Linked DNA regions of Homo sapiens. The protein of the gene in region 4 interacts with the protein of the main gene of each other region in a pairwise test. Each region holds a gene or a part of one and is shown on either strand. Other genes may lie near its edges.

Region 1 (4,186 bases), on a different chromosome or scaffold from region 4:
AATTGTGCACTGAAATGTGAAGGTCTAGGAAAGAGGTGATGAAGGCCTGCGTGTGGACCAAGATGAAAGGCCAGATTTGAGACACATGACTCAAGTAAAATTAAGCCAGCGCAGTGGCACTTGCCTGTAGTCCCAGCTACTTGGGAGGCTGAGGCAGGAAGACTGTTTGAACCTACGAGTTCAAGGCCAGTCTGGGCAACACAGCCAAAACCCCGTCTCTTAAAAAAAATTTATCAGTACTTGATGAACAAGAGAGTGTATATGGTGATGGAGAAGAAGCTCAGAACATCTTCAGAATTGCTAGTTTACAAAAATAGGTGGATTAAATTCTGTTAAGTGAGCTGGAGGAGACAGTGAGTTTAGGTTTGCTCATGCTAAGCTGGAGGGTTACAGGAGGTCAAAATGGATTTTCTGGATGGTATTCTGAAATGCAGGTCTGAAGTTTATGATGCTTACTTGTTGACATTACGTTTCAGGGTCTCTAGCTGCTGACGTTCAGGAGCTGTGATCATCTCCTCTATTTCTTGTAACTGTGCTTCCTCTGCACCAGTAGCCTGCATAGATGCAATGATGGCTTCTACCCTCTGAGATTTTTCTAGTAGACGCCTGTCAAACAAACACAACTCTGAGACATCTTCCCTAACCTGGGAGATTCTCTTACCACGTGTGTCTGAGGCACTACCCACCACCCTTTACCATTTTCCTGATCAAAGTAGATAATGTCACCTTCTAAGGACATTTTCTACAAACTTATTTGGAAATATAACTTCACTCCTGAAATTCTTATTGCCTCTCATTTGCACTTAAAAGTTTGGTGCTTTTGTACGTTTCTCACAAATTTAATCTGAAAAATTATTTCACTGGGAGCATGTTAGAAAAGTGTAGACTAATGCATGATTTACACTAATCTAAGCCAATGATTCAATGCAAGTAGACTGGTTGCTATCTCTACTGGTTCCTACTTCTCAAAAAAAAAATTTTTTTTTTTGAGATGGAGTCTCACTTTGTCGCCCAGGCTGGAGTGCAGTGGCGTGATCTTGGTTCACTGCAACCTCCACTCACTGGGTTTAAGTGATTCTCCTGCCTTAGCCTCCCGAGTAGCTGGGACTATAGGTGCCCGCCACCATGCCCAGCTAATTTTTGTATTTTTAGTGAAGACAGGGTTTCACCATGTTGGCCAGGTTGGTCTCAAACTCCTGACCTCAAGTGATCCACCTGCCTCAGCCTCCCGAAGTGCTGGGATTACAGGCATGAGCCACCCTGCCAGGCCCAGCGTCTATTGATTCCTATTTCTAGAGGAAATTTCCCCTGAGGCCCTTGATCTTGAAAGATGTAAATAACTCAACTGAAAATGTTACTTACTTATTCTCTTTGGTTTCAAATTGCCTCCTTTCTATCAAGTTGGCTATGCTCTGAGGAAAGAGAAGACAGACAAGGAATGCACATAGTTCTATTTCAGCAGCTCAGGGCGAAGTGGGCACATGAGGGGTACTTGACCGTATGGAGGAAATGGGGAGAAGGTCCAGATTGAGTTACCTTGTAGCACCTGTGCAACAACATTCGGGCAGCTGACAGGATGTTCACAGTATATAAATAGAAGGTCCTGGATGGGGCATGGTCTGGTGTTTTGGGAATTTCCTATTTGTCCAATAGAAAGAAAAATAGCAGAAATTATACTGTTTTAGAACTGGCAAAGCACACACTCATTCTACCTGGAGTTACTTAGCCCTCCTTTTTACTTACACTTTCCTGTTTCCTAGTCATTCAGTACCTGTGTTTATTTTATTTATTTATTTTGAGACTGGGTCTTGCTCTGTTACCTAGGATGGAGTGCGGTGGCATGATATCAGCTCACTGCAACTTCCACCTCCGGCTCAAGCAATCCTCCCACCTCAGTCCCCCAAGTAGCCGGAACTACAGGCATGCACCACCATGCTCCGCTAATTTTTTAATCTTTTGGGGGTGGTGGAGACATGGTCTCACTATATTTTCCAGGCTGGTCTTGAATTCCTGGGCTCAAGTGATCATCCCGCCTTGGTTTCCCAAAGTGCTGAGAATACAGGTGTGCCCGGCCCAGTCTTTGTGGTTTATGTCATAATCAGTCAAATGGAGAGCTGGGCTTCCCTGTTTTTTCCATTTGACTGTCAGCATCCTGAGCTGGGGAAGAAAGGGAGGGCAACTAACATTTACTGAACAACTCTATGTGCCAGGTAAATTCTATTTGATCTTTACAAAAAGTCGTATTATTATTATTTTTGAGACAGAGTCTTGCTCTGTTGCCCAGGCTGGAGTGCAGTGGCACAATGTTGGCTCACTGCAACCTCTGCCTCCCAGGTTCAAGCAATTCTCCTTCCTCAGCCTCCTGAGTAGCTGGGATTACAGACACACGGCACCACGCCCAGCTAATTTTTGTATTTTTAGTAGAGACAGGGTTTCACCAGGTTGGCCAGGCTATTCTCGAATTCCTGACCTCAAGTGATCCGTCCGCCTAGGCCTCCCAAAGTGCTGGGATTACAGGCATGAGCCACCGCACCTGGCAACCATATTATTTTTATTATCACCATCCATCACTGTTTTATAGATGGGAAACGTGGTAACTTGCTTAATGTAACTGGGTAAGGCAGAGCTGTAATCTGACTCCAAAAATCCATTCTATCTATTTACTCATATGCTCTACTAAATAGCCCTGCAAAGACTCAGTTAGATGTGTTGATAAATTTAAACTATAACAGAATTAAGGCTTAAGGAAGGACAGAAATGAGAAGAGAAAAAAAGGCAGGGTGGGTTTGGGGTGATGTCCTGGCTCTGCCTCTTTTTTGTTTTTTGTTTTTTTTGTTTTTTGAGACAGAGTCTCACTCTGTTGCTCAGGCTAGAGTGCAGTGGCTTGATCTCGGCTCACTGCAACCTCCCCCTCCTGGGTTCAAGAGAGTCTCCTTCCTGCCTCAGCCTCCCGAGCAGCTGGGACTATAGGCGTGTGCCACCAGGCCCAGCTAATTGTTTTGTATTTTATTAGAGACGGAGTTTCACCATGTTGGCCAGGCTGGTCTCGAACTCCTGACCTCAAGTGATTTGCCCACCTTGGCCTCCCAAAGTGCTGGGACTACAGGCGCGAACCACCGTGCCCGGCCACCTCTTTCTCACTAGGGCAGTTAAGGCCCCAAATTATCCTCCAAGTGCTCGCTATGTCTCTGTGAATCATGTTTTTCTGTCTCAGAGCTGGATATAGAGTTTGCTTGGGGGTTCAGTATGTTTGCCTAAGAAGCTTCTCTCACCCTAGGCCAGCTTTGCTGGTTGGCAATTATTACGCCCTTGGTTGGTTACCTGGAGTGACATGAAATTTTCTGAGAGCATCTTATATAGCATATCCTTTGCCTCCTTTGCAGGAATCATTGCAAAGTCTTCCACTTGCTTCTGCTCTATGTGTTTCTTCTGCAAAACTAGACGGAATATTCTAGCACAGCGAGACCCAAATCTGGAAAGGAATGAAGAAAGCAAATGGCATGCTAACATAGATCAGCTTTAGTTCCCAGTCATAGATGGGGTGGTTGTTCTATTCCATGTGTGAAGCCAGTACCAGACAGGAACAGTGATCAGAAAATTATTCTACAGCTCCATAGGTTGGTGATGGTAAGGCATCACCAACTGCTGTTAATCATAAGGCAGTCACCAACTGCTGACTCATTTGAGTGCCACAGTTCCTACATTTGTAAGCAAAGGCTTTAGGGAGGCTGGTTAATTTGCATCGGTAGGAATTAAACAGTAGGTTATTTTAAGGTAAAGAGCAGTATTACATGAGATCCATAGGAGTCCAGTGAAAAAATGGGGAAAAGTATGCCAAGGTGTGGTTATATTGGTGGCTTACATAATGATCAAATTACTTCACTGGGGATAGGAAGTATGTGATCCCAAACCCAACCAGTGTCCCCCTTACCTCTCCTGTACGACGGACTCCAGAGTGGCTGTGGCTAGGGATGCTAATGCCTTATGGAGGTCTTTATGTAGAGAATTAAGGTCACTCAGTAATGTTTTGGCCTAGTTATTGTGATCTGAGTTTTATTCCTAAGTTTCTAATTTATAATTAAATTTTAAATGCTATTTTGTTTTTCATGTTATAATTTATGGTTTCAGTCATGGTACATAAATATTCCAAAACTTTAATACAAGTGTTTAAGTAAGGGTTTTGCTT
Region 2 (4,186 bases), on a different chromosome or scaffold from region 4:
ATATTTGTGTATAGATATATAGGACTTATTTTTAGATTTGTGATTTAGTAGTCCCTTGGTCAAATTTCTCTTTAGAATCTCGAAGCTTAACATTTATTATACATATAGTGATATTTTTTTCCTTTCCTGGGAGAAAGGAGAAAATAACAATTTGTGAATTTCCGCTATTTTTCTCAAGGATGTCACACCATGATCTGAATGTATGTTTCTAAGAAAGATAAATTTTACTTTATTGCGACAACAGGATGGATAGTGCTTGCAAAGTTCTTATGAGAGAGGTCTCATCAAAAAGTTTGCTACTTGCTGTTAAAAGTTGTTTCTAAAGCAGGAGAGGAGCACTGCCAATAAACCCCCCTTTCTGGGTCTCTGAGTCCTTTGAAATTCTGCAATTTCTACTCTTGCTTCTTTCAGATGACCTAAAAATTAGACCTTGCCTAAAGAAGGAAGCTCCTCAGATATTGGTAAGAAAGTAACACTAGTGAGCATCACCTGGAAAGAGTTACTGGGACAATTCTCGCTCCGGTCTGACACTATTCATGGCAGGGGTGGAGATCAGGAGAAAGACAGGATTCACGCTGCAGAAAACTGGGCTCTACTTCTGACCTTGTGAACCTGGGAAAGCTCTGCAGTCCTCGGCTTTGCTCATTTATAGAACAAGGGTATTAGAAATTTAAGATGCCAGCTATGTACTTCATTCATTCTTCAAATGGTTACTGAGTGAAGAGCACTGTTCTTTGTCCTTGAAGAATCAACAAACAAATAAAAATCTGTCCTTGTGGAGTGCACCTCTTCTAACTTTCTACTTACCTTTGGGGTACGCATTTTGTGGACACAACATGGCGTATAGCATTCTAGAAGCAACGAAATGCAGACCTTCTCAACTCTTAGGTTGTTCCTTGAGCTCATTTCACATTCGGAGAAAGAAGTACCTGCTGAGGCAGATACTGAGGCAAGTAGTTTCAGGAATACTAAGAGAAGTGTGACAAGCCCTTAACCTAGAGGAGCTCAGCATTTAGTAGGGAGGCTGAAAGACAGGAGAGTGAAGAATAAGCAAATAATGATACTCATTCCAGGAGAATTCTGTAGGGAGATAAATCATATCCTATTAGGAAACTGAGTGATGGACTCTGCTAGGAGGTAAGGTTTAAGTTAGATCTTAAAAATGGTTACATTTACAGAGGGATGGGGAGTCTAAGAGCAGAAAATAGCATCATTTATTATACATATAGTGATATATAAAATATCACTATATGTATAATATAGTGATTTTACATATCACTATATGTTTACATATCACTGTATGTTTACACAACTACGGAAAAGCACAGAGCATGTTGGGAGAAATGGGAAAATGATTTGCTTGGCTGCCACAGAGGGTCAAAAGAGTGCATGGGGATATGAGCTGGCCAAGGCCTACAGCCCGACGATGCCAGCCTAGGGAATTGTGCGTACTTTGGCCACTCCTGAGAGCTTTGAACACAGGACTGACAGGCTCACATTCAAGATGACAAAGTCAGTGTGGCCCAGAGGAAGCAAAGAACAGTTTTTATCAAGTCCTGGCAGCAACAATAACAACAACTAAGTGATTCAACTCAACAATAATTGAGTTGCCGGGTCTACTTGCTGGGTGCTGAGGAAGCAAAGACAAGCTCAAGCTAGCCACTCTCTTTAACTGTTAGAGAACACCAGCCAGGAGAAAAACACGGAAGTTCAGGACCAACAAAATGTCCAGGCAGGAAGGAAGAACCCCAGCCACCTCCTTGTAGGGGAGGGAAAAATAGTGCATGGAAAAGGGAAGATATATGCTCAGAGGATCCTGAGACCTGAAAATATCATCTAAACTCTAATCCAGCAGCTTTTAGGGGGGTTTTATCTGCCCAGGCGTGGTGGCTCACACCTGTAATCCCAGCACTTTGGGATTACAGATCACTCAGATTTGCAGATCACTCGAGGCCAGGAGTTCCAGACCAGCCTGGCCAACATGGTGAAAACCCATCTCTGCACAAAATACAAAAATCAGCCGGGTGTGGTGGTGTGCACCTGTAGTCCCAGCTACTCAGGAGGCTGAGGCAGAAAAATCACTTGAGCCTGGGAGGCGGAGGTTGTAGTGAGCCAAGATCATGCCACTGCACTCAAGCCTCGGTTACAGAGTGAAACCCTGTCTCAAAAAATAAAACAAATAAATAAATAAATAGAGGGGATTTATCCAATATAATGTGGACATAGAGAAAGTTCTGAGGTTGGATTTCAGTTAAGGAAAGCACCTGTTACATCATTCGGTCAGTCAGCAAACATTCAGTGTGGTGTCTAATATGTTCCAGACACTTTTCCAGGCACTGGGTAAACAAATAGGTTCCTGCTCTAATGGAGATTACAAGTTAGAAGGGGAGACAGAGAATAGCACATAAGCAGAAACTATGTAACAAATTGCGTGGTGCTAAGTGGTATGAAGAAAAAGCAAGCAAACAAGCAGATGGAAGAGAGCACATTGTGTGTGGTCAGAATAAGCCTTTCTGAGGGTGTGATATCTGATAAAGGGGGTCAGGATGCAGGTGGCTGGGGGACCGTCCCTCCAGGTCAAGGGAACAGTATTTGTACCTGGCACGTTCTAGGAAGAGCAAGGACAACTGGGGACTCGGAGAGTGGCAAGGCAAGCCCTGTAGGCAAAGTAAGGAGTTTGGGTTTCATCCTGAACAGGGCTATGGTCAAAGAAGTAACACAATGTCCACTCCAGGAGGACAAGGACTTGTGACTGTTTTGCACTGTGATCCTGCTACATCCCAGCACCTAAACCAATGCCTGGCACACAGCAGATGTCTAGGCAGTATTTGTTGAATGAATGAATGAATGAGAAGACTTCCACTTTTAAAGGCTCGTTTGGGCTGCTGTATAGGGAACAGACTGCAGATGGGCAAGGACTACAGAAAACCAGTTAGGAAAGCTTACTAGCGCTTAGACGGGGATGGCTGTGCTGGATGGAGAGGGAGAGAGAAGGGACAGAGATTTATTGAAAGCTGGATCTGGGTGAGAAAAAAGTCAGAGGGACTCACAGGTATTTGACCTGAACAACTGAAAGGACAGAGTTGTCCCTGAGAGAGATGGAGGACACCAGAAGAGAAGCACGTTTAGGGAGCAAAAATCGGGGGTTGTATTTTGCACATGTTAATTTTAAGCTAACGTGCCATTCAAAGGGAGATGCTGGGCGGTTGCATTTTCAAGTCTGGAGTTCTGGGAATGAGTCAGGGCTGACGAAATAAACTTGGAATCATGAGCATGAAGACAGTGTTGAGAGAAGGAATTTAAGTAAGAAGGGAAGAAGTCTGAGAGCCAAGGCCTGGGGAATCCCCGTACCCGCATTTAAAGGTCAAAATTCAGTTGAGATCAATCGGGATAAAAACTCAGGGGCCATCCAAAGAGCCTGAGAGAGAAGAGCCAGAGAGGCTGCGGGAACACCAGGAGAATCTGGTGTCCTGGAAGAAGCCAGGTGCTTAAGAAAAGAGTGGTCCCCCACAGCCCCATGGGAAATGCTGCTCAGATCAGCAAAGCTGTGCCCTTGTACTTCACCAGGTAGAGATCATTGGTGACCCTAATGACAACAGGGAGGGGAGTGACAGGAACGAGTGACTGATACCTGATCGAGGTGCTCTCAAGACAGGCAAAAGGTGAGAGGTGGCAGAAACACAAAAGTAGCTTCAAATAAGATGGTGATCTTCTGGTCTCAGGCTGCATGGTGGGTGTGTGTCATATTTTGCTTCATATATTTCATATATGTTCAATGTGCTGTTTGTCAAAATCAAATATGTCACAATAAAATATGTCTTTAGAGGCTGAGATGGAGGGAGTGAAGAAGGCCAGTGGGACAACCTTTTTGAAGCATATTCTTTAAAAAGAAACAGAAAATCCATCATGGGGGATGTGGAGTCAGGGAGCGGTTTTATAAATGTCATACATCACAGTACCATTTGTATGCCAATTATTTCCTTATCATCATCCTCTTTATATGCAGGTCCTATGCCCGGTCATGTAGAGGGGACACCAAGGACAATGCTGGGGGTAGGCAGGGGGAAATAAAGCTGGCAACAATCCTCAAAACGATTTTTTTTTCCAATTTCAAAAAGCTCATTTCTACAAAAATAATTTATATTCAAAATAGAGGGAAAACGTCATTAAGTAGTTTTAAGTTTTG
Region 3 (3,444 bases), on a different chromosome or scaffold from region 4:
TTTCAGAAAAAAGTTGGGGAGGAGAGAAAGAGAGAGAGGCTTAAATAGATATTTTTAGTTCAAGTTCCTGGAACCTGCCCCAGTTTGAGCAAGTTAAGAGCAGTGAAACAATTCCTACATCCAGTAACAATTCAAGTCTCCTGATCATGACCTTGTGAAACCTTCCCTGAGCTGTCATTACCAAGGAATTATAAAGCAATTATCAATCCACTATAAATAAGTTCCTACCTGCCATTAAATCCACCAAAATCTCATGATGGGCTGAGAGCCCAGCACGGGGTCCTAGCGTAGACCTATTACCTACACTAGGGTAGGTGGTGTGAGCATGCTGCTGGGCAGTGGCTCTCTGGGCTCACTATGATGATGAAACAGTTGACTCTATGAAGTTTAACTCTAATGAAAGCCCCTATGACAGACCACCTATTTCCTTTCTAAGTCCAGACTGCTTCCCCTCCACTAGCTGGGGAGGGAGAGGCCATATGAGTGGAGGGACCTGTGGAGGAAAAATTATTATTACTACCTTGATGTCCGCTGAACCAAAGTGGATGGAAATTTCTCAGGACATATTCATCCAAACTACAAAAACAGGTTACTCCATACTGATTACAGGATGATTTATCACACATTCATTAAATATAGAACATTGACTAGCAACCAGTTTCCTCCAACAACAGATCCATTTGGAAATGGCACACTGTAGAAGGCAATCTTGTGACTTCCTTCTAGTTGTATATAAAAAATACAAATCGGTCAGGGAGTCAGGTACAAAACAGTGGTACAAAAGCATGAATAGATACGCCTTATCAAAGAATGTGCTCATTTCATATTGCAGAACTTCTATCTAGATTCTGATTTTTAGAAACTTACTGCTGGTTCATTTGTTCGGAGAGGTTTCTTCACACCTCTCTTCCACTCCTACCTCCCCTTGCTAAAATCCACTGACTGAAGAATACTTAGTATGGATCCACATGGAACCAAAATCCCCAACTGAATGGAGTCACATGCATCAGCACAGTGGCTACCGGTTTCATCTGCTCACCCAGCCTCATGTATTTAGGGACTGAATTCAAGCTAGAAGCACCCAACACTTTTGTCTTTTGGAATCTAATCCAAGTGCCAATGTACATCTAAAAGTCCCATGTATAGGAATCTCTTGATTCCTACAAATGAGATTCAAGGGAGAGAACAGTGAGGAAAGCCCAGAGAGGGGGCAGGAGACTGGCCACAAGCCAGGTGTGTACTTCCCTTTCTTAGTCTGTAAATGACAGGTTGAGCTGGCAGGACTCCATGGTCCTCACCAACTGACACTCAAGGACTCCATTCTGTATTCTGAGGTCCATTTCTATCCAGGCTTGTCAGGCTGAGTCAGACAAAACTTCCTTACCACTTTGTGTCAACAATTTAAAGTGGTTTTAACATACTTCTATGATGTAGTTTGAGGTTTTCCCTCTCTCTCCTACCCATCAAAGACTTCATTCCACTGGTACCAACCACTTGGCCAAACTGATGGCTGCTGAGGTTTAAAACTGAATCTCTGGCCTGGTGAAGATATGGCCTTTGAGTAACTTAGACCAGGGCACATTTATCTGTTTTTCATTAACAATTTTAACTAAATAGAAATATAATTCTGTTAGCTCTTCTACAGGTCTACTTAAACTTTGAAAGATGAGATTGTTCAAAAATGACACGAGAAAATCACCCATCACCACTAAGTTAAAGACTTGAATATGTGAGAGTTCCAGAGCCTCAAACTCCTACTACAGTCACTGATCCATAACATTTTCCTCTTGCAATGGACTCCACGCCAAAGTAGCTCAGTCTTGCGGCATGTTTGTGCACCAAAAAGTAGGTTTCGAAAGATCCAGCACTAGTCATCACTGTCACTGCCAGACTCACTCAACTGCAAGTCATTTCCTATTTAAAAAAAAAAATAAAGTAAAATCATAGAATCAAACAAAAGTACAGAATTTAAAAATGACTTCCTCATAATTTTTTGTTAATTGCCTTGGCTATCACACTACAGTAAAACCTTGTTAATTCAACTTAGGGAAGAAAATCAAATTGGCTCACTGAAACAAAATGGTGCTTTTGGTTATCTACAAAGCACAACAATACTGCATATTAGGGTAGAGCAAAGGAGAAGTAAGCTGGATAACTTTTAAATGGTTTAATAAATAGCAAGAAAATATTTAAAATATGTCTGGGCGCAGTGGCTCACGCCTGTAATCCCAACACTTTGGGAGGCCAAGGCAGGGAGATCATTTGAGGCCAGCAGTTGGAGACCAGCCTGGCCAACGTGGCGAAACCCCATCTCTACTAAAAATATAAAAATCAGCCACGTGTAGTGGGACATGCTTGTAATCCCAGGTACTTGGGAGGCTGAAGCAGGAGAATCGCTTGAACCCAAGAGGTGGAGGTTGCAGTAAGCCAAGATTGCACCACTGCACTCCAGCCTGGGCGATAGAGTGAGACTGTCTCAAGGAAAAAAAGAAAAAAGAAAAAAAAAAAAAAAGAAAATATTTAAAATAACTGATCACCATTCGGAAGAACTGATCACATTAAGTTGCTTTATAAAGGCAACTTAAGAAAATATCCGGTAGGCTTCCCATTAAGAAAGGTGAATACTGTTAACACCAGTAATATGCTAATGCAGTATCTGCTCTGGCACACCTCTGTCCAGGATAGTCACGTTATCTTAAATTTCAAATCTGAACTAACGTGCTTTACAAAACCCCAGATTCCTGTTTACTAGGCAGAATTTAGAAGAATATAATTACTTAACATTTCAATCTAATACAATAGGAATACATATAACAGAACCCCAGTTGATACCACTTGTAGCAAAAGTGATTTTCTTTATTTCCAAATTGCTAATCTCTAGGCCAGTTCTCCTCAAAGTCTATTCTGAGGACTCGGGGTTCCATGAAACCCTTTCAGGGGGGTCTGATCCTGAGGTCACCCCTTTTCTAACTACCTAGAATGCCAGATTTTCTTCATATACTTCAGTCTCTATGTTAAAGATGGGGCATATAATGGCAATGTCTTGAGATATTTTTGGTTGTCATGGGGCTGGGGAGGTGGGAAGAGACTGGTACTGGCATCTAGTGGGTAGACGTCAGGGATGCTCTTAAACATCCTACAATGTGCAGGACAACCTCCCACAAAGAAGACTTATCTTGCCCAAACTGCCCATAGTGCTGAGGTTGAGATTATCTCTGCCTGGTCCACAATAGTTGGATTAACTAGGTTAACTTCCCCACTGTTACCTCTAGACCTTCCAACTTCCTTAAAGGAAGGTGTACCAAGAGAGAACATTCATCAGGGTTCCAAAAAGAGAAAAGCATAGAAAATTAGCCCTCTGTTCACCTTCAAAACAAATAAATTTTTGTTCTTGTTTTCCTGTTTTACTTTAGTATCAACTGCATTAAAACACACCGAGGCCAG
Region 4 (4,696 bases):
AACCTGGGTGCCCCTAAGTGGCTGGAGGGGTGGCTGGGTGGACAGCGCGAAAGACCCCGCTCAGGGGGCCCCCTCCTGGCTTGGGACGGTAGAGGGGTCCCGCGGGGTGGCGGCGGAGGCAGGGGAGGTGGCGGCGGGGCGGGAGGTGCGGACGGTGCGCGCGTCGCTGCGAGCTGGAGCCCCTAGGGGCCCGCCACACACACTCGCACCCCTCCCCCTCCCGGCCTTCCTCCCACCCGCTCGCCGCGACCCCCTCCCCAACCCCCTCCCCTCCCCCCGCCTCCGCCCCATTCTTGGAATTGTGTGGAAAAATTCTCAGCCAAACCTCCCACCTCTCCTCTCCCCCCACCCACCCCCTTTAAAAAACCCCTTTCCTCCCCGGCCCCTGCACTCTTTGTGAATGAGGGCAGGGAACACGGCCCTTCCCCCGCCCAGGAGCCACGCCAGACCGCCGCACTCAGAGGACTGTTTGTTAATAGTCCAATTAGATAATTGCCATCTTTCACTCCTTTTGCTCCGCATTTCCCATAAAGGAATGAATGGGGAGAGCGGCGTGGAGAGGGCTTCTGCCCCGGCAAGGTGACGAGAAGGGCTGGAGCATGCTCCTTGCACAAGGCCATGCGCTTGAATTGAATCATTGTAGCCTAATCAATGCTCTTATTGGATTACTGGCTGTTGCTTTTCTCAAAGATATTGTAGCAGAGACAATGAAATAGCTAGGGGAAAACTTTTTTTTTTTTTTTTTGAAGCAGATCTCACAGTTGAGATTTCTCGGCCGTCTCTCCCTCTCCCCCTCTCTCTCCTGCTGGACTCTGAGTACAAAGCTGCCCTTTGAATGGGCTGCCTCAGGGCTGCTGGAGGTGCAGGCATGAAAAAATCCAACTGGAACTAAATGAAGAGAGGTGGCAGTTTAAGATGGCTGTCTGCGTCGAGGTGTGTTAAGAAGGAGTTGTTTAGGGGAAAATCTTGGCTTTTTTAGAGTGCAAGGGAGATACTTTTTGGGAAAACTTTCTCCCCCCGCTCTGTCCCCCATCCCCCACTCCCAGACAACTGCTTTCTTCTGCCGCAGGGTGCGCAGGGTTTTTTTTTTCTCCCCCCACACCCCCCCGCCGCCCAACCCTCATTCAGCTCTATCTGGCGAGTGTGGAGAAAACCCCTCTAGCCAGTATGTGAGCAGGAGGGTCAAAGGCAAAAGGAAAGTTAATAATGCCTGCTAATGGTACTAACAATTCAGGATGAATCTTGTCAAAAGTTTTTCTGGAAGTGTGGGTCTTTGATTGTGTGTTTCCTGAAAGCAAGACCAATCATTTCCGTTTATTCACTGGCTAAACCCCTACTTGATTGGGGACAAGGACAGAAACCATCCATTACGATCTGATATATTATCCAAACAATTTAGTGTATTCATGAGGTAACCGAAACGTGGGGGCTGCGAAATTACCCGTAATCAATTGCAACAGCGAGTGTGCGTCCCCCCGGGTGTCGGACAACTACAACTCGCCGTCTCAGAAACAGGCGGGAGCCGCAGCATTTCGGAGTTGCGCTGTTCGCTACCTGATCGCCAGGCTGGGGACACTGGACGTGCTCAGAGGACGCGGGTGCTGACGAGGCGGCCTCGCCGCAGCTCCACCAGGATCCTGGACCAGACTGGCCGCCTCTCGGCGAGCGCGCCACTCTCCCGTCGCCGCTGACCCGCGCGCGGCCGCCGAAGCCTCCCCGCGGGGACATTCATTCTTGCCCCTTGCCTGTCGCCGGGCCGGGCGTACGGGCCGCGTTGTCGGGGGTTTTGTCCCCTTTTTCCTCTTTTTTTTTTCCTTCTCCGCCCCCCCCCCTTTTTTTTTTTTTTGCTTTTTTTTTCCTTTCTGTTTTTGTTGTTGTTCTTGCCTATGTTCGGGAAACCAGACAAAATGGACGTTCGATGCCACTCGGACGCCGAGGCTGCCCGGGTCTCGAAGAACGCGCACAAGGAGAGTCGGGAGAGCAAGGGCGCGGAGGGGAACCTCCCAGCCGCCTTCCTCAAGGAGCCGCAGGGCGCCTTCTCAGCGTCGGGCGCTGCTGAGGATTGTAACAAAAGTAAATCCAATTCCGCAGCGGACCCGGATTACTGCCGCCGGATCCTGGTCCGAGGTAGGGATGGGCAGGGCTGCCAGGCGCGTTCTTTGGGGTCGACTCCGGGGCCGGAGCTGCGCGCTGCCGCCGACACAGGCCGGTGGGAAGGAGTGCCGGCTGGGACTTGGGAGAAAGTTGTTGGCCCTCCCCGCCCCGAGTCCGGCTGGGGACAAGCGCCTGGGACTCTCCGGTGCGCTCTCCAGGGGCCTCGGCCCTCCACGCCCGGAGGGGCCCCGCTGACCGGGCTGCGGGGGGAGATGAGGGGCTGCGCGGGTGCGGCCGGGCATCGGGCTGCGGCCTCCGACCCGGGAAAGGAGCAGAAAACTCCGGGAGGAGGTGTGCGCGCTCCAAGGGCCGGACGACCTGCCGGGAGCCGGCCAGGGGACTCCCGCGCTCTGGAGGGCTGAGCGCACCCAAGGGGGAACGCGAGCCCCGGAGAACAGCTGCCGATCGCGGGCTACGGCCCTGCCAGTTAGTGCACTGGGCCGAGGACCCCACGGCCGCGATCGGTGCCCGACCGCTGCCGCCGGGAGAGGCAGCTGGGCTTGGTTACGGAGCCGCGGTTGCCGCTTTGGTGCTCTGCTCTGCCGCTCTCGGATGGCGCGGCGTGCACTTAGCCCCGGCGGCGGAGGCTGCGAGGCCGGGCCCCGGCCCGGCGCCGCCCCAGCCAGCAGCAGATCTCCGGGCCCGGCCGGCCCCGACTCAGTCCCTCCTCCTTCCGCCGCGCGGACTCCGGAGGGAAGGAGACTCGAGGGTGGGGGTGGGGACGTCTGGATCACGGTCTGGTCGGCAAGCCCAGAGCTGGGGCCCGCAGGACCCGGGCGGGGCGACAAGGGTACCCTCAGGCTACAGGGGACCCGGAAGGCTCAGCCGAGGCCCCCCCAGGCCGGAAGAAACGTCCGCCTATGTGGAATTGATTGGATTTTTTTCTCTCCCCTGTCTGGAGGACTCTACAAAAAGACAAAGTGTGGTCCCTCCTTCGGTCAGCGGTATGGAGTTAGGCCCCTTGCCCTCCACACAGTGTCTTTGCTACCTGGTTGTGGTCGCGCTCCGCACCCCGCCCCCCATCCCCAAAACTGCACGCTTCTGGGGACTGTGTCCCCAAATCCAGCTCGGGCCAAGGAGGTGGAGGGGGACGGGAGGGTTCTGGCGGCTGACATCTCCCCTTCCCCAGATGCCAAGGGGTCCATCCGAGAGATCATCCTGCCCAAGGGCCTGGACTTGGACCGGCCTAAGAGGACGCGCACGTCCTTCACCGCGGAGCAGCTCTATCGGCTGGAGATGGAGTTCCAGCGCTGCCAGTACGTGGTGGGCCGCGAGAGGACCGAGCTCGCCCGGCAGCTTAACCTCTCCGAGACCCAGGTACCCGGCGACCAGGCCGCACACAGTTCTGCACCAGCCTTCCTCCCCACCACCCCTACCTAGCCTGCTCTTCACCTCCTAACCTGCTCTGGACAGAACTACCCTTGGGAGGTGGAGGAGATGGGAAGGATGGGTAAGACAGGCCTAAGGATTCCTTCCCCTAGATAATACATCCTTTCCCCCCACCATTCCTGCCATCCCCAAATCCTCCAGGGCCCATGTTTTATCCACCTTGGCCTAGGCCCAGAAGGCCCCAAATCCTGTCCTTTTGGAATTTTTATTGTCCCCCGGTTTTGAGCATTTCCTTCGAGCTTCTGCTCTACAAAGAACTGACTTTTGCCCTTGTTTGGGGTACCCCATTTTGGCTAGATTTCTAGGCCCCACCCCTTGTGGGCCCACCCAGCTGTACTCAGCGTCCAGGCCCATTCTACAGGAGTGAGGCTAGATCTAACACCCCCTGCCCCAGCACCATGGGTGATTCCCAGGAATTAGGTGTACGCCCTCCTGGAGATCTGCCTGTGCAGATCAGGCTGCCCTGACCCTTAAAGGAAGGCTTTCCCCATTCTGAGCTGGCCCCAGCCCTGAGCACCTAGGAGACCCTGTCTTCTGGGCCAGTGATGTGTGAGGTGTGTGATGGGAAGGAGATCTAGGACCCAGAAGCCAGTACTGCTGATTGTGCTTTAGATCTTTCCCTTTACATTAAATCCATATGATGCCCCTTGGAGCTGGCCATGTGGGCTCTGGGCCCAGGAGAGGACCCAAGAACTTGCCAAGTGGCATGTCACCAGCTTGGCCTAGCTACGGCAGCCTTCTTTCTGAAGACTGATCCTTTTCCCCATGCCCAACCCTGAAGCAGGTGGAGAGCATTTTAGGTCCGGGATCTGGGCTGAAAGCTGAGGACTGACAGAACAGATAGGGGTGTTCTTTTTGAGTTTGAGTTGGTATGGTAGCTTTTTCTATTCTCTCTGCTACTACTCCTCTTAGTTTATAAAATCTAGATAGGATAGTCTTTGCCTATTGCTGCAAAACTCTTCTGGGCCACTGCTAGGCCTGCAGAGGGGCAGAAGAATGAGAGGGGAGGTTAGTGGGGAATATTCAATCCACCTCAGCCTCCTGACTTTCTCCCATGATTCCAAGTTCATGACTCAGACCAGTGGAGAGATAAACTAAGAGTATCACCAGACCCTTCAATGCAGCTATCTGGTGAGAAGAGGTGCAGAAATCT
Region 5 (4,186 bases), on a different chromosome or scaffold from region 4:
AAATAAATTCAAAAAATGAAAATGAATATATCTAGAAGAAAGATAATGCTAGGCTGAATCTCTCAAATGTATCAGAATGTTTACATGTCTCGATAGTTCTTGAGGGCTCAACAAAACATAAAACCACAATTCGGCCTCCACAACTCTCTGTAAAGTAGGAAGTTGTCAATTTACAAAGGCTATCACAGAAAAGGAAAGAACAAAAAGGTGGGAAAGGCAATGAATTTAAAAACAAATCCAAAAAACAGACAACATACCTGGCAACATGAGAAAAAGCATCCACAAGGACAGATTCAAATTCTCTAGTGAATTCAGGTCCTTTCCTTTTACTGTTTTGGATGACATCATTCGCTAAATACAGAAAAGTAAGCTTTCTATTTGATTTGGCTGAAAAAAAGAAAAGAAAAGAATTTAACTTACACCAAAGAAATTCTCAATTCACAATTCTTTTGCCCTGGGCTGCTCCTAAAAAAACATTAAGACAAGTATTATCTACCTGGGGGGTCAAGTAGATATGTTTAAAAAGACCACCTAAGGAATAGGTTTGGGAATACCATTTCGGAAAAAAAAAAAAGAAAAAGAAAAAGAATGGGCCATCTTCATTGCTGTGTTGTTTAAACCAGGGTAATTAATTGATAGTAAAAATTAAGATAATCCAAAGAGAATTCCTAAAGGATAAGCAGTCAGTGTTAATGTTGAAACTAGGGCTTTTATTTATTCTACTGCAAAAATGAGCAACTTCTAACTCACTTTTAATTATCAAATATTTCAGAATGAAAGACTGAGTTGGCCGGACGCAGTGGCTCATGCCTGTAATCTCAGCACTCTGGGAGGACGAGGTGGGTGGATCATTTGAGGTCAGGAGTTTGAGACCAGCCTGGCCAACATGGTGAAACCCTACCTCTACTAAAGATACAAAAATTAGCCGGGTGTGATGGTGGGCACCTGTAGTCCCAGCTACTCAGGAGGCTGAGGCAGGAGAATCGCTTGAACCCAGGAGGTGGAGGTTGCAGTGAGCCGAGATTGCACTACTGTACTCCAGCTTGGGCAATAGAGCAAGACTCTGTCTCAAAAAAAAAAAAAAAAGACTGAGTTAGGTTTCAATTTTAAAATGGTTTCGCCGAGCGTGGTGGCTCATGCCTGTCATCCCAGCACTTTTGGAGGCCGAGATGGACGGATCACCTGAGGTCGGGAGTTTGAGACCAGCCTGACCAACGTGGAGAAACCCCGTCTCTACTAAAAATACAAAATTTGCCTGGCGTGGTGGCACATGCCTGTAATCCCAGTTACTCAGGAGGCTGAGGTGGGAGAATCGCTTGAATCCGGGAGGTAGAGGTTGTGGTGAGCCTAGATCATGCTGTTGCACTCCAGCCTGGGCAACAAGAGCAAAACTCCGTCTCAAAAAAAAAAAAAAGGTTTCTTGTAATTTTGCTCCTAAACTGAGAATTTCTCTGATACTCCAATAACCATAATCAATAATATAGAAGAATCTCTAGGTGCACCAATAGATATTAGCTCAAATACAAGTATACATTAACACTACACTCTTATTGAAAATTTACACACGTGTGAAATCTAGATATGCAAAATTAGGGCTTTCACAAAAACCATAATTCTCTCTTATTTATATGAAATGTGGTTATTCCCTATTACTCTATATGGTATCATATATTAAACCATAAAAACCTCGTGCAATATGTCTGAGTTACAGTTGCTTTGGGGAACATTACTGAATTCCCTGGCTTCTATGCACATAATTTCTCAACTATAAAGTTACATCCCTACAATTTTTGGTTCCAATTTTCTTTTAAAAGAAATAAATAAGAACATAATTAGATGTTTCAAAACACAAAGTTTTCTCCAATGCTAAAGTACCTGAAAAACACAAGCTCTTTATCAACCTTAACACACCTGAGTAACTCTATTTCTCTCTGAAACCAGTTGTTTCTTTTGAAATGTACAAAGCATTGATATGTCTGACATAGCAGGCATAAGATCTGACATTTTAAAATGTAGCTACAGGAGGCTGGGCACAGTGGCTCACGCCTGTAATCCCAGCACTCCGGGAGGCCAAGGCAGGTGGATCACCTGAGGTCACGAGATCAAGGCCATCCTGGCTAACATGGTGAAACCTTGTCTCTACTAAAAATACAAAAAATTAGCCAGGCGTGGTGGCGGGCGCCTGTAGTCCCAGCTACTCAGGAGGCTGAGGCAGGACAATGGGGTGAGCCCAGGAGGCGGAGCTTGCAGTGAGCCGAGATCACACCACTGCACTCCAGTCTGGGTGACAGAGCAAGACTCTGTCTCAAAAAAAAAAAAAAAAAAAAAAAACAAAACAAAAAAAATCAGCCGGGCGTGGTGCCAGGCGCCTGTAAACCCAGCTACTTGGGAGGCTGAGGCAGGCGAATCACTTGAACCTGGGAGGCGGAGGTTGCAGTGAGCCGAGATCGCGCCAACTGCACTCCCACCTGGGTGACAGAGTAAGAGACTCCGTCTCAAAAAAAAAAAAAAAAATGTAGCTACAGGAGAGTAACCCAAGTTAAAAACATGATTTTAATAGCACATTACAGTTTAAACTGATGAAACTGATGTCTTAAATGCTCATAAAATTAAATATGGATACCCTGAATTGTCTTAACCTTCTGGTAATAACCTAGTTTAGATGGCCAACTGATAAGAATACTAGGAACCTGGAGCTTTCTTCAACTTTCTAATTATTATTCAAAAGCAGAACAAAAGTGTCAGTAGTTACAATATCTACTGTTGCTACAAAGGTATGATTATGGCAAAACGTGCTTTTTTGTTAAAGCAAACCTTGCTCTGCAAAGTTGATGTAAGTGAAACTACTACACCTATAATCCCATGCAAGTTAGCAGATTCGAAAGCAAAACAGAACTTCAACAAAGCAAATTTCATTAAGTGAAGCTTTAAAATTCCATACACTTTATGTTGAAAAAAAAAAAACCTAGAATCCATATTGTAAAATGTCAGTGTGGACATTCAAGACCTGATATATACTTCTCAGTAGACAAACAAGGTATCTAAGGGGCTTGAGACCCAAGGTTTTCACTGTTTACAATGCCAATTAATTTTCATCACCCCAGAACTTAACAATGGGGATTTATTTAGGATAAACTGTATCCCTCCATATTCAACATCCTCAACAGTCAACATAAGCACCATGTGTGTCAAGGTGATATGACAAAACCCTAGAGCTCTTGAGCACACACAGTCACAATACACACAACATGCACACCCCTCCATCCCAATCCTGGGGGACAACTCACTTGTTCAGATGTCCTTCCTATACGACAGAAATAGGTCCTTTCACTCACTACCCATGTCCATTCCAAACTGGTCAAACTAGTTGTTGAGTAAAATTTAAACAACTGGTTAATCAAAACTTTTCACTTGTTTGGCTGGTTTTGACATCTACAGAAAGTCTTAAAGTAATTCTGCAATAAAAGCCCATTACCTACATTCAGGCCAAGATACAAAACACCATTAAAAACATTCATTTAGGAGCACTTTACACCAAAACTAGTCCATAAAGAAGGGGAGACGTTCTACTTAGAACAGAGCTCAAATGGGATAAATTAAAAATTATTCCTAGAAAATGGAAAGACAACACATCAGGAATAGAAGTATTTAAGCAAGAAAAAAAGTTAATTTTTATAAATCTCATATATTTTGAAGGCAACTCAGAGACAGTCTGTGAGCATCTCAGCTACGGAAAATGACTTCACCCTAGGTAGAACCTACAGGGCTAATCAATCTGAACATTAGGGCACAGAATCCTTTTCTTTCAGTGTGGGGGCATTTTCAGTTCATGAAATAAGCCTGGATATTCGGAAGCTAGGTATTGATGCTTGGAAGAGCATCTTTTTTTAACTCTGCACTGTCCAGTAAGTTAGCCACTAGCCACGTGTGGCTATTGGAACACCTGAATTGCAGCTGGTAAAAACTGGAAACTAAATTTTCAATTCTATCTACTTAAAACTTTAGTTCCTTAGTCACACATTTTAAGTGCTCCATAGCCACATATACCAAGCGGCTACCTGTTGGATGGCACAGATAGAAAACATTGCTATTATCACAGAAAATTGTATTAGATAGCGCTGTTTATATCCTTTATGCTGCTATCATAGAAAGTTGTATTGGATAGCGCTGTTTAGATCCTTTACTC
Region 6 (4,186 bases), on a different chromosome or scaffold from region 4:
GATTAATATTTTCTAACATAGAGAAGGGCAGTATTTTATTCAAGGGAAGATATAAAAATAAAATCTTCTTTTTCAGTGGCTCTGTCTTATTCAATTTGCAGCTGCAAGGATGATGATATTTAGCTATCTTCCCAAAGTAAATGATCTGAACTAGACACATTTTTTTAGGATCTCTTTCACAGAGTAAAATATTGGAAGTTTTGATAAAGTTCTATTTTATTATTAGGTGTTAGACTTAATATGTGGGCAATAATATGTGTTTCATATACACTCTGGTTATCTTTTGAAATATTTATTCTTTTAGAATAGTATTTGCTTGTCTTATTGTCTAATTCAGTAGTAGTTCTTAATCCTGGCTTGGCAGTAGAACTACCTAGATTTTCAGCAATGCTGATGTCCTAGTTCTGGTCTCTTACTTCATAGATCTAGACTTGGGCCCAGTATCCAAGATTTTTAAGAGCTCGCCCATTGTTTTTAATATGTAGCCTAGTCCTGTCTAGTTAGTTCATAAACTTATGATATCCATTAAGTTTAGCTGGTTCCTATTAGCACAAATACTAGGAATATTTCCTTTAAAGCATAGTTAAAAAGAAACCAGCATGAACAATGAAAACAAAATAAATTACATACATTAATGCCAGTTCTATTGAGCCTGGTGTCAACGTGTAAATTTAACCAAAAGAACAAAACAGAGATTAAAACCACAGATCCAGAACTTGAACTAGGATCCCTAATGGAGATTAATATTTTCTTCAGCAGTCTGCCAGCTGAATCATTGTCTAATTAAATAGTTCAAATTTAGTGAGTTTGCATTTAAAGTATTAGCAGATCCGAGAATGGGTAAAGCTAAAATGAGTTAGAATCTTTTCTATAAATGGGAAGTTAAATTATCATAGTAATTTGATTAAATCATTTTTAAATCTCTCATGCTAAATCACAGCCTTGAAAGAATAGTTTGAAATCTTAATTGCTGTTTGTGAGCATATCTCTCTGCTATTTGTTCTTGTCTCATTTCCCATGACATCCTATAATATATCTCCTGCTGGGCAAGAGTAGTGGGAAAGGCAAGACTATGGGTAGGGCCGAGGTAACTGTGCAGCTGACTTCAAGCACTTAAAGATATGCCATGTAGAAAAAGGAAATTTATCCTGTATTGTTCTAGTAATTAGAAACAGGACCAAATGATAGAATTTGGAGACAGATTTAGGAAAATTTAAAGAGGAAATTCATAATAATTAGTTTTGCCTCTTATCAAGGAGAATACTCTACATACTTTTCATACAACTGGCAATGTCTTCATTAAGAATGTTGTAAAGAAGACAGCTGATGAAGATAGGAGTTTGAATAGGATGTGTTTAGAGGACAATTCATCCCAATTTTTAAGGGAATGCAAATTTAGTGTTCTACATTCTAGCAGCATTATTGATTTGAAGAATCCTGAATTTAAACCTGTGTCTGACACATATTACCAGTGCCACGTGTCTTCTAGGGCTTGGGGAGGTAAAATGAGGCCATGTTCACCTGAAATAGGTGCTTAATAAATGGTAAATGTATTATTTTTATTCTGGTGTGTTTTTGGTCTAGTTGGAAAATAGTTATTTCGTTTGTTTTGTCACTGCAGAGTGTAATTCCCATTTTCTCCTTCCATCTATTACTCTGTTTTCATGTAGAGAGCTAATTATTAGACCCAGGATAAGTTGGGAAAATCCAACTCATCTCTGTTCCCTTATGCACAAGGTCCATATTGCAGTCTTTTGTGTATCTAGAGACTCACCATAGTGTTTCCCCATACCTCCCATTTTTCCTTCAGGTAGCATTTAAGTGCAAAAATAGAGAGAAAGAATATCAGATCATGTTGCCATCATCTCTATGAATGTTTTTCTGTCCCTAAGATTACCAACCCCTAGACAACTTTAGAAATTATGTGTGTTTGTTTCTAAGAGACAGCACCATAGGAGGTGGATGAGATTGCCATGCTGAGAGGAACCAGACTGGAGAGAAGCTGGGTAGAAACAATCCACAGGGAAAGGCCAGGCGTATGTTGGGGAGTGACTTGAGTCCCGCTCCAGGGAACCACTATCAATGCTATTTCCCACTTGGAAAAATTCCTTCTTTTTGCTCTGCCAGGCAGAAATTGAGTCTTGAGCAGTAAATACTTATAAGCAACTTTATTCCAGATTATTCAAAAATTTTTTAAAGAGGTGTCATTAAACTACCTAATGTAAATAGTGGTCAGTTCACCAGTGATATGGTGGAATGATTCAAAATGACAATGTAAGTGAAAAAAACACTAAACAAAATACAAATAAATTTTTAAGACATGCTACTGGTTATCTTTTAATTAGTTTGCCATATTTCATTTTTATTATATATTTAGCCACTTGATTTTAAATTACATTCCCTCTCTTTTTGTTCATGTGATCTATGTTTGAATTGTATGAAAGATTAGGCTAACTACATATATCTTAGAGCTCAGCATTCTCAGAGAACTAGAATTATTAAACATGAAGAATCCCCCAAAGACTCCATTATGTGTAATTAACAGATAAACTGTCATCAGAATCAATAAAACGTGCTAAATGATTCAAACTTGTATATAATTAAGTGTCTGCTTTAGAGCTGGAGCTGTAACTTTTATTTTTTCCCCACATCTCACATTTCTCACAAGAATAATTTGGCAACCTTGTTAACCCTTTCTTTGCTTGATTGAATTAGATTTTCAAATTATTCATTTAAGGGCAAAGTTCACCTTTACAAATGCGAAAAATATTTCAGAACTCAGTGATCTGAAGACACCATTTGTTTTTCATCAGGGAAGTAGACTCTGTAAGGATGCTTTAATCAACTGATACTAGAACATTAAACATCCTGAAAGGATAAATAATTTATTGTGATTTCTGTATAGTGCTAGATTCAATGTAGTCACATGGAGTTCTTAGAATCTTAGTCAACAATTTTTTCCCCTGTTTGGGAAATATTGGCTTTTCCAGGCAAGATCAGAATTTTAAACAACCTTCCCCCACACAGCACTAAGATAATACTTTCAATAGATGGCCTTCCGTGGTTGTTTATTGAGTGAATGAATATATACCTGGATGAGACAATGAATAAAATAGTCAAGACTGTAATCTGTTAAAAGAAAGCCTTCTCTTGCTCAGCCTGAGAAAGAAAAATACACATTTTAAATCATAGATCTTTTCTAATAATTCCCATTTTCTAAGCTAGTATTAGAAATTATGTAGGGAAATTTGGAAAGAAATAGAGATTGTAGAAATGCAAGACTCTGAACAAATCATAGGTTCAAGCTCAGAGAAGTTCAAAAATAATTAAATTAATAACTAATTTTATAACTCTAGTCTACATAGGTTTGCTATTATTATTATAATTACTCATATCTTTTGCTTCATTGCACAGACTCCATGCACATAGAAGATGTTGAAGCCGTTCAGAAGCTTCAGGATGTCTTACATGAAGCGCTGCAGGATTATGAAGCTGGCCAGCACATGGAAGACCCTCGTCGAGCTGGCAAGATGCTGATGACACTGCCACTCCTGAGGCAGACCTCTACCAAGGCCGTGCAGCATTTCTACAACATCAAACTAGAAGGCAAAGTCCCAATGCACAAACTTTTTTTGGAAATGTTGGAGGCCAAGGTCTGACTAAAAGCTCCCTGGGCCTTCCCATCCTTCATGTTGAAAAAGGGAAAATAAACCCAAGAGTGATGTCGAAGAAACTTAGAGTTTAGTTAACAACATCAAAAATCAACAGACTGCACTGATAATTTAGCAGCAAGACTATGAAGCAGCTTTCAGATTCCTCCATAGGTTCCTGATGAGTTTCTTTCTACTTTCTCCATCATCTTCTTTCCTCTTTCTTCCCACATTTCTCTTTCTCTTTATTTTTTCTCCTTTTCTTCTTTCACCTCCCTTATTTCTTTGCTTCTTTCATTCCTAGTTCCCATTCTCCTTTATTTTCTTCCCGTCTGCCTGCCTTCTTTCTTTTCTTTACCTACTCTCATTCCTCTCTTTTCTCATCCTTCCCCTTTTTTCTAAATTTGAAATAGCTTTAGTTTAAAAAAAAATCCTCCCTTCCCCCTTTCCTTTCCCTTTCTTTCCTTTTTCCCTTTCCTTTTCCCTTTCCTTTCCTTTCCTCTTGACCTTCTTTCCATCTTTCTTTTTCTTCCTTC
Region 7 (4,794 bases), on a different chromosome or scaffold from region 4:
CAGCCTGGCAGGCAGCCCTTAAAACCCCATCGTTATTGCTCATTTTTTTTCCCAGCATACACCCTGTATATACCCAGCAGGAAAAAAACCCACTTGCCCAGGCTGGTGCCATTCAGGAAAAAATAGTTCGATCTCACTGATAAAGTGTCTTGCCCAAGTTTAAAAAACCTTCTGTACTTTCATATGTGCACAACCATTTCCATGCCGGTTACTGCCCCTACTCCAGCTTTTAAAAACTTCTAGACATTCTTCCACCATGGTTGCCCATCTCAGAGATATTACTAAGGCATGTTCCCTTTGCACTCAAACTTCCCCTCAGGAAGCTATCAAACCATCTCCTTTCCCACACACCAGACCTGAGGACACTTACTAGGGCAGGACTAGCAAATCAACATCACTCACATGCTCCCCAGAAAGTGATTCCTATACATTCTAACAATAGTAGATACATTCTCTGGATGAATAAAAGCTTTTCCTACCACCACCAAAAAGGCACACACCATCGCTTCTATTCTCTCCACCCATATTATCCACCGGTTTAAACTCCCCTCTTGCATCCAGTCAGACAATGGGCCAATTTGTTTCAGTTTAACCAACAGCTGGTAAAGGCTCTAAACATTAAATGGGCTTTCCATATTCCTTACCACTCCGAATCTTCAGGAAAAATTTTATAAAAAACAACAACTAACCAAACTCTCCTTAAAGGTTAAAATGGCCTGGACTTCACTTCTCCCATTGTTCCTCATGCGATTATGAGTCATTTCCTAAAAGCGCTCAGCCTAAGCCCATTTAAATTCATGTACAAATGCTCCATTTATCCTCCAGAATCTCCCTGTATTTTCCCCCCATTCTATATGGAATACTTGGCCGGCGTTACACCTCACCCAACATCTAATAAGACAGTACGCAAATGCTTACTTGACCCAGCCTAAAAGTCCATCCTCAAAACACTCCTCCCTGTCCCTACAACCAGCGGGCTGGGTCTGAATCACAGACTCCTCCTCCCCCGCTCTCCAACCTAAGTGGAGGAATTCTCACCAGGTGATGCTAACTACTCCCACAGCGCCAAAGCTAACATCCTTTGCACACTGAATGCACATTTCAAACTAAAAAGAGCACCAGATCCACATCTAGAAATTTGTTCACCCCCAAATTATTCTCCTTCCCTGACAAGACCAACCTCACTGTACTTAACAAGAATTCCAGAAGTTGCCAATCCAGAACACCTTAGTCCATAACACTCTCTGTCTCCAGTTTCCAATCTTTTGTCTCCTACTTTATTTCAGATCTTTCCTGGTTTCCCTTCCCCATGACCCTGAATAGTCCAGGCCAATTTGTCACACTAATCAAGGAGATATGACTTCAGGGCACCTTCCAAAATTTCACTCCTACTCAAATCTCCTCTTTCTCCTTTTGTCCTCTCTATCTGTGGGATATTCTAAGTCCCCACCCCGAACGTCTAACAGATGAGCCCCCTTCATCAGCCTCACTGCCTCTTAAATCAGTCACACTCCCCTCTTCCTTCCAACTGTTAAATTTGTTTGTCCACACAAATCCAGTAGTTCACAGCCCTTCCTGTTAACCTGGCCACATGAACCCTGTCCAAAATAAACCTGCATTTCACCTAATTGACCAATTCATTCGCAAAACCTGCTTATAATCTTGCTCGGCTAATCACCTTTCCCCCCCCACCAATCCATCAAATCCACCCACACCGTCACACACAGGGCTGTCACCCTCCTTCACCTCATAGCCTCTTAACTAAACATGTTACCAGTCGGATTCCAGAAAATACCTCTTATCAACCCCTCCCCTTTCTGCCGGAGCCGCTCTCCATGTATCCAAGTCAAGGGCGCTCCCTGGAAAATATCCACAAACAATTCCCTCAACTGCAACCTGTATCCTTCTGCGCTGTCAGGACCGCAATGGCTATTAGTTACAAAAACCCATTTCCTGCTCTCTCTCCAAAACCAAACAGCCTTCACCTCCTCCACTACCAACATTTCCTATCAGGCCTTCAGAGGGGCTACCCTTGCTGGCAGGTATTCAACTTGGAAAAACATAAAAGTTAAAACAAAGGGTTTGTGCAGAATTCAACCCCCACCTTCTCATGACTTGCCACCATAACCTACAACTTTTGTCTGTCCACCCCTAGTGTCTTCTTCCTTTGCGGCACAAACTCTTATCTCTGCCTACTGGCCAATTGGTCAGGAACATGCACCCTTGTGTTTCAATCTAAACATTAACACTTTGCCTAACAAGCAGACCATCCAGGTTCCTTTAGTAGCTTCTGTCTCATCTTCCTCCACACACACTAAGCAGGCTGTACATCTCATTCTAGTGTTAGCAGAACTAAACATCTCTGATGCACTCAGCACTGGGATAGCAGGTGGTCCCTTTCTTAGGGCCGTTAATCTTCCTCCTCCTGATAGTACATTTGGCCGATGTATACTCACCTTCATATCCTGCTTTATCTCCCGAAGGCTAAACTCCCCTCTCCAGGCAGCCACCCAGCAACACATTGATACCATCCTTCTCCTCTGCCAAGTCCGGTACCAGTGCCTCCAGGAAAACAACTCTGAAGTCCGTCACCCCCTGCTTCAAAACCCAAACCCTGATTACAGCTCCCCTATTCGGCAGCAAGCAGCCAGATAATCAACAATGCCCCTCTTCCTTTTATACTAAAGTAGAAGGCAAGAATGTGAGTCCAAACCACCATTTAGTAAGCACCCTGCTATTTTGCAGACCTTGATCAAAGTGAAACATTCCACGGGGGTTCGGGCCATGAGAAAAATCTTGCCTAATCGTCGTAACACAAGGCGGACACAGGTCCAACTAAAGAAACTTTCCTATGGTATCTTGCTGGGCAAAGTTCCAAGAAACACCACAATGACATCCCACTGGAAAAAGGACCAAACAGCCTGATCATAAAAACATCTTATCAATATCCTGCCGGGCAGCAAGCCATACTGCCCCGGCCCCTCCCACCCATACCTATAAGCACCCCAGCCTGTAAGCGGCGGTGGGTTCTGGCATTAAGCGGGTCCCCCACTTCCACAGGTGTCTGCAGTATTCCTGTGTTGCTGTTTGAGCCGTCCCTTCTCTGTGTGTCTTTCTTTCACCCTCACCTTCCCTTCAAAACCTAACAATCTTACCTCATCATTTTTTTTGTTATTGGATTCACAGGGGCTCTTCCTCTTCTCCCCATTGGTGCTTGAAGTCGGCTGTTCCATGATTCTGCTTGGTTGTAGAATGTCTATAGTAGGCTCTTGTAGACTGCAGACTTCCACAGCTATATTGAAGCTTGCCAGGAGGATGTCCCAGAGCTCTGGCCCTCCCTATGTATACCTTCCTGGTGGCAAGGCAAAGCCACACTCTTGAGCTTTGTTTGATCATACAGGCAGTGTCCCAGCCAATGGCAGTCCTAGGGTGGCTTAGACATCACAAAGCACCACTGCTGACCACTCCCTGGGCTTGTGGGGGACGGATGACAGGGGTGTAGAGGAAACCAAATGCTGTTGTTGTTTCAGCATCCCCTGAAGATGCATCCCAAACTAATCTGCTGCTGCTCATTTCTCCATGTTTAATGTTCATGGTTCACATGGAAGTGAGAGGATGATTCCTTCAAGCCCTTCCCCACAGTCATTCCTATGAAGTCATTCATTCTTTTGTCTTCCAGCCCTCACCATGACTTAGTATTTTAGATGTCTCACCTCAAATCCCTCCAAGCTAGTGTGGCTACATTTAATTATTGGTGGAGATGTGAATTATCCCATTTCCCTCCTACAGTTCCTTCACATGCACCTTGAAGACCATTTACTTTTAGGCTACTGCCAGGCAAATTTCAACCCATGTTCTTTTACCCAATGTCCATGTAGTTCTTTTAAGTTTCCTATCTCCAATCTGAAATAATGGCCTTCAGTCTGTCAAAACTTTGGTGAATAAACTTTCTTTACCATGTATCCTAGTCTTGTTTCAAATCAGGGGTCTATGTTCATAGTAAATGTAGTATCCCAACATGAATTCTGCCAGTATGTGGGTGGGGGAAGGAGTGGATATTCAAGTGCTGGAAGTTGTTCTGAGTATTTACCTGCAGGATGCTACAATCTAAGACCCACATGTGCACCAGTATGGGCACAGTTATACTTTGTACTGGAGATTGTGTCCAGTGTAAAAGAAAAAAAAATGCATTCAGATTGGAAAGGGAGAAGTAAAAGTATCTTTTGTCAAAGACTACCTGAGAGTATATGTAGAAAAGTCAATCTAAAAAAATGGTTCTACATTAATTGAGGTTAGCAAAATTGCAAAGTAAGAGATCAACACACAAATCAATTGTATGTTTATATATTAGCAGTTACATATGAGAAGTTTCTATATTAGAAGAGACAATGTTTTAGCCAATGGTAGTCCTAGGGTGGACTGGAAGTTAATTTCAACAACTGAAAGTTGAAACTAAGAACAGTGCAATTTAAAATATCACTAAAAATATTAAAGGCTTAGGGATAAATCTGACCAAAGATGTAAATGACTTGTACACTTAAAACTACAAAAATTTACAATGATAAATTAATGACATAAGAAAAAAATTGAGATCTATACTTTGATTTTCGGTTGGAAGATTCAATATTGTAAAATGGCAGTTATTTCCAATTTCATCTGTGGATTCAACTAAATTCTAATCAAAATTCTAAAAAGCCTTTTTAATAGAAATTGACAAGATAATTATAATATTCCTATGGAAATATAAAGTGCCTAGAATAGTCAAAAGAAAAGTGTTGAATCTTAAAAAGCTCT

The links.
Region 1: the proteins of VAX1 (region 4) and POLR3C interact in binary tests that used the Homo sapiens proteins (3 or more experiments, as listed by UniProt).
Region 2: the proteins of VAX1 (region 4) and HECW1 interact in binary tests that used the Homo sapiens proteins (3 or more experiments, as listed by UniProt).
Region 3: the proteins of VAX1 (region 4) and EAF1 interact in binary tests that used the Homo sapiens proteins (3 or more experiments, as listed by UniProt).
Region 5: the proteins of VAX1 (region 4) and RPRD1B interact in binary tests that used the Homo sapiens proteins (3 or more experiments, as listed by UniProt).
Region 6: the proteins of VAX1 (region 4) and ESRRG interact in binary tests that used the Homo sapiens proteins (3 or more experiments, as listed by UniProt).
Region 7: the proteins of VAX1 (region 4) and SPANXN2 interact in binary tests that used the Homo sapiens proteins (3 or more experiments, as listed by UniProt).

What each region holds. Positions count from the first base shown.
Region 1 is NC_000001.11:145,837,342-145,841,527, reverse strand, and holds part of POLR3C (DNA-directed RNA polymerase III subunit RPC3), read right to left. Parts: exon of another isoform or gene 4,037-4,186; intron 3,993-4,036; coding exon 3,932-3,992; intron 3,473-3,931; coding exon 3,322-3,472; intron 1,639-3,321; coding exon 1,537-1,638; intron 1,413-1,536; coding exon 1,363-1,412; intron 607-1,362; coding exon 457-606; intron 1-456. UniProt on the Homo sapiens protein: DNA-dependent RNA polymerase catalyzes the transcription of DNA into RNA using the four ribonucleoside triphosphates as substrates.
Region 2 is NC_000007.14:43,118,641-43,122,826, reverse strand, and holds part of HECW1 (E3 ubiquitin-protein ligase HECW1), read right to left. Parts: intron 3,881-4,186; exon of another isoform or gene 3,632-3,880; intron 1,025-3,631; exon of another isoform or gene 808-1,024; intron 1-807. UniProt on the Homo sapiens protein: E3 ubiquitin-protein ligase that mediates ubiquitination and subsequent degradation of DVL1. Also targets the mutant SOD1 protein involved in familial amyotrophic lateral sclerosis (FALS).
Region 3 is NC_000003.12:15,437,579-15,441,022, reverse strand, and holds part of EAF1 (ELL-associated factor 1), read right to left. Parts: intron 1,915-3,444; coding exon 1,868-1,914; 3' UTR 1-1,867. UniProt on the Homo sapiens protein: Acts as a transcriptional transactivator of ELL and ELL2 elongation activities.
Region 4 is NC_000010.11:117,135,247-117,139,942, reverse strand, and holds the start of VAX1 (ventral anterior homeobox 1), read left to right. Parts: upstream 1-1,672; 5' UTR 1,673-1,886; coding exon 1,887-2,127; intron 2,128-3,283; coding exon 3,284-3,471; intron 3,472-4,696. UniProt on the Homo sapiens protein: Transcription factor that may function in dorsoventral specification of the forebrain. Required for axon guidance and major tract formation in the developing forebrain.
Region 5 is NC_000020.11:38,036,636-38,040,821, reverse strand, and holds part of RPRD1B (regulation of nuclear pre-mRNA domain-containing protein 1B), read right to left. Parts: intron 3,364-4,186; exon of another isoform or gene 2,715-3,363; intron 388-2,714; coding exon 258-387; intron 1-257. UniProt on the Homo sapiens protein: Interacts with phosphorylated C-terminal heptapeptide repeat domain (CTD) of the largest RNA polymerase II subunit POLR2A, and participates in dephosphorylation of the CTD by RPAP2. Transcriptional regulator which enhances expression of CCND1.
Region 6 is NC_000001.11:216,506,412-216,510,597, reverse strand, and holds part of ESRRG (estrogen-related receptor gamma), read left to right. Parts: intron 1-3,414; coding exon 3,415-3,659; 3' UTR 3,660-4,186. UniProt on the Homo sapiens protein: Orphan receptor that acts as a transcription activator in the absence of bound ligand. Binds specifically to an estrogen response element and activates reporter genes controlled by estrogen response elements.
Region 7 is NC_000023.11:143,717,436-143,722,229, forward strand, and holds the start of SPANXN2 (sperm protein associated with the nucleus on the X chromosome N2), read right to left. Parts: upstream 3,318-4,794; 5' UTR 3,234-3,317; coding exon 3,156-3,233; intron 1-3,155.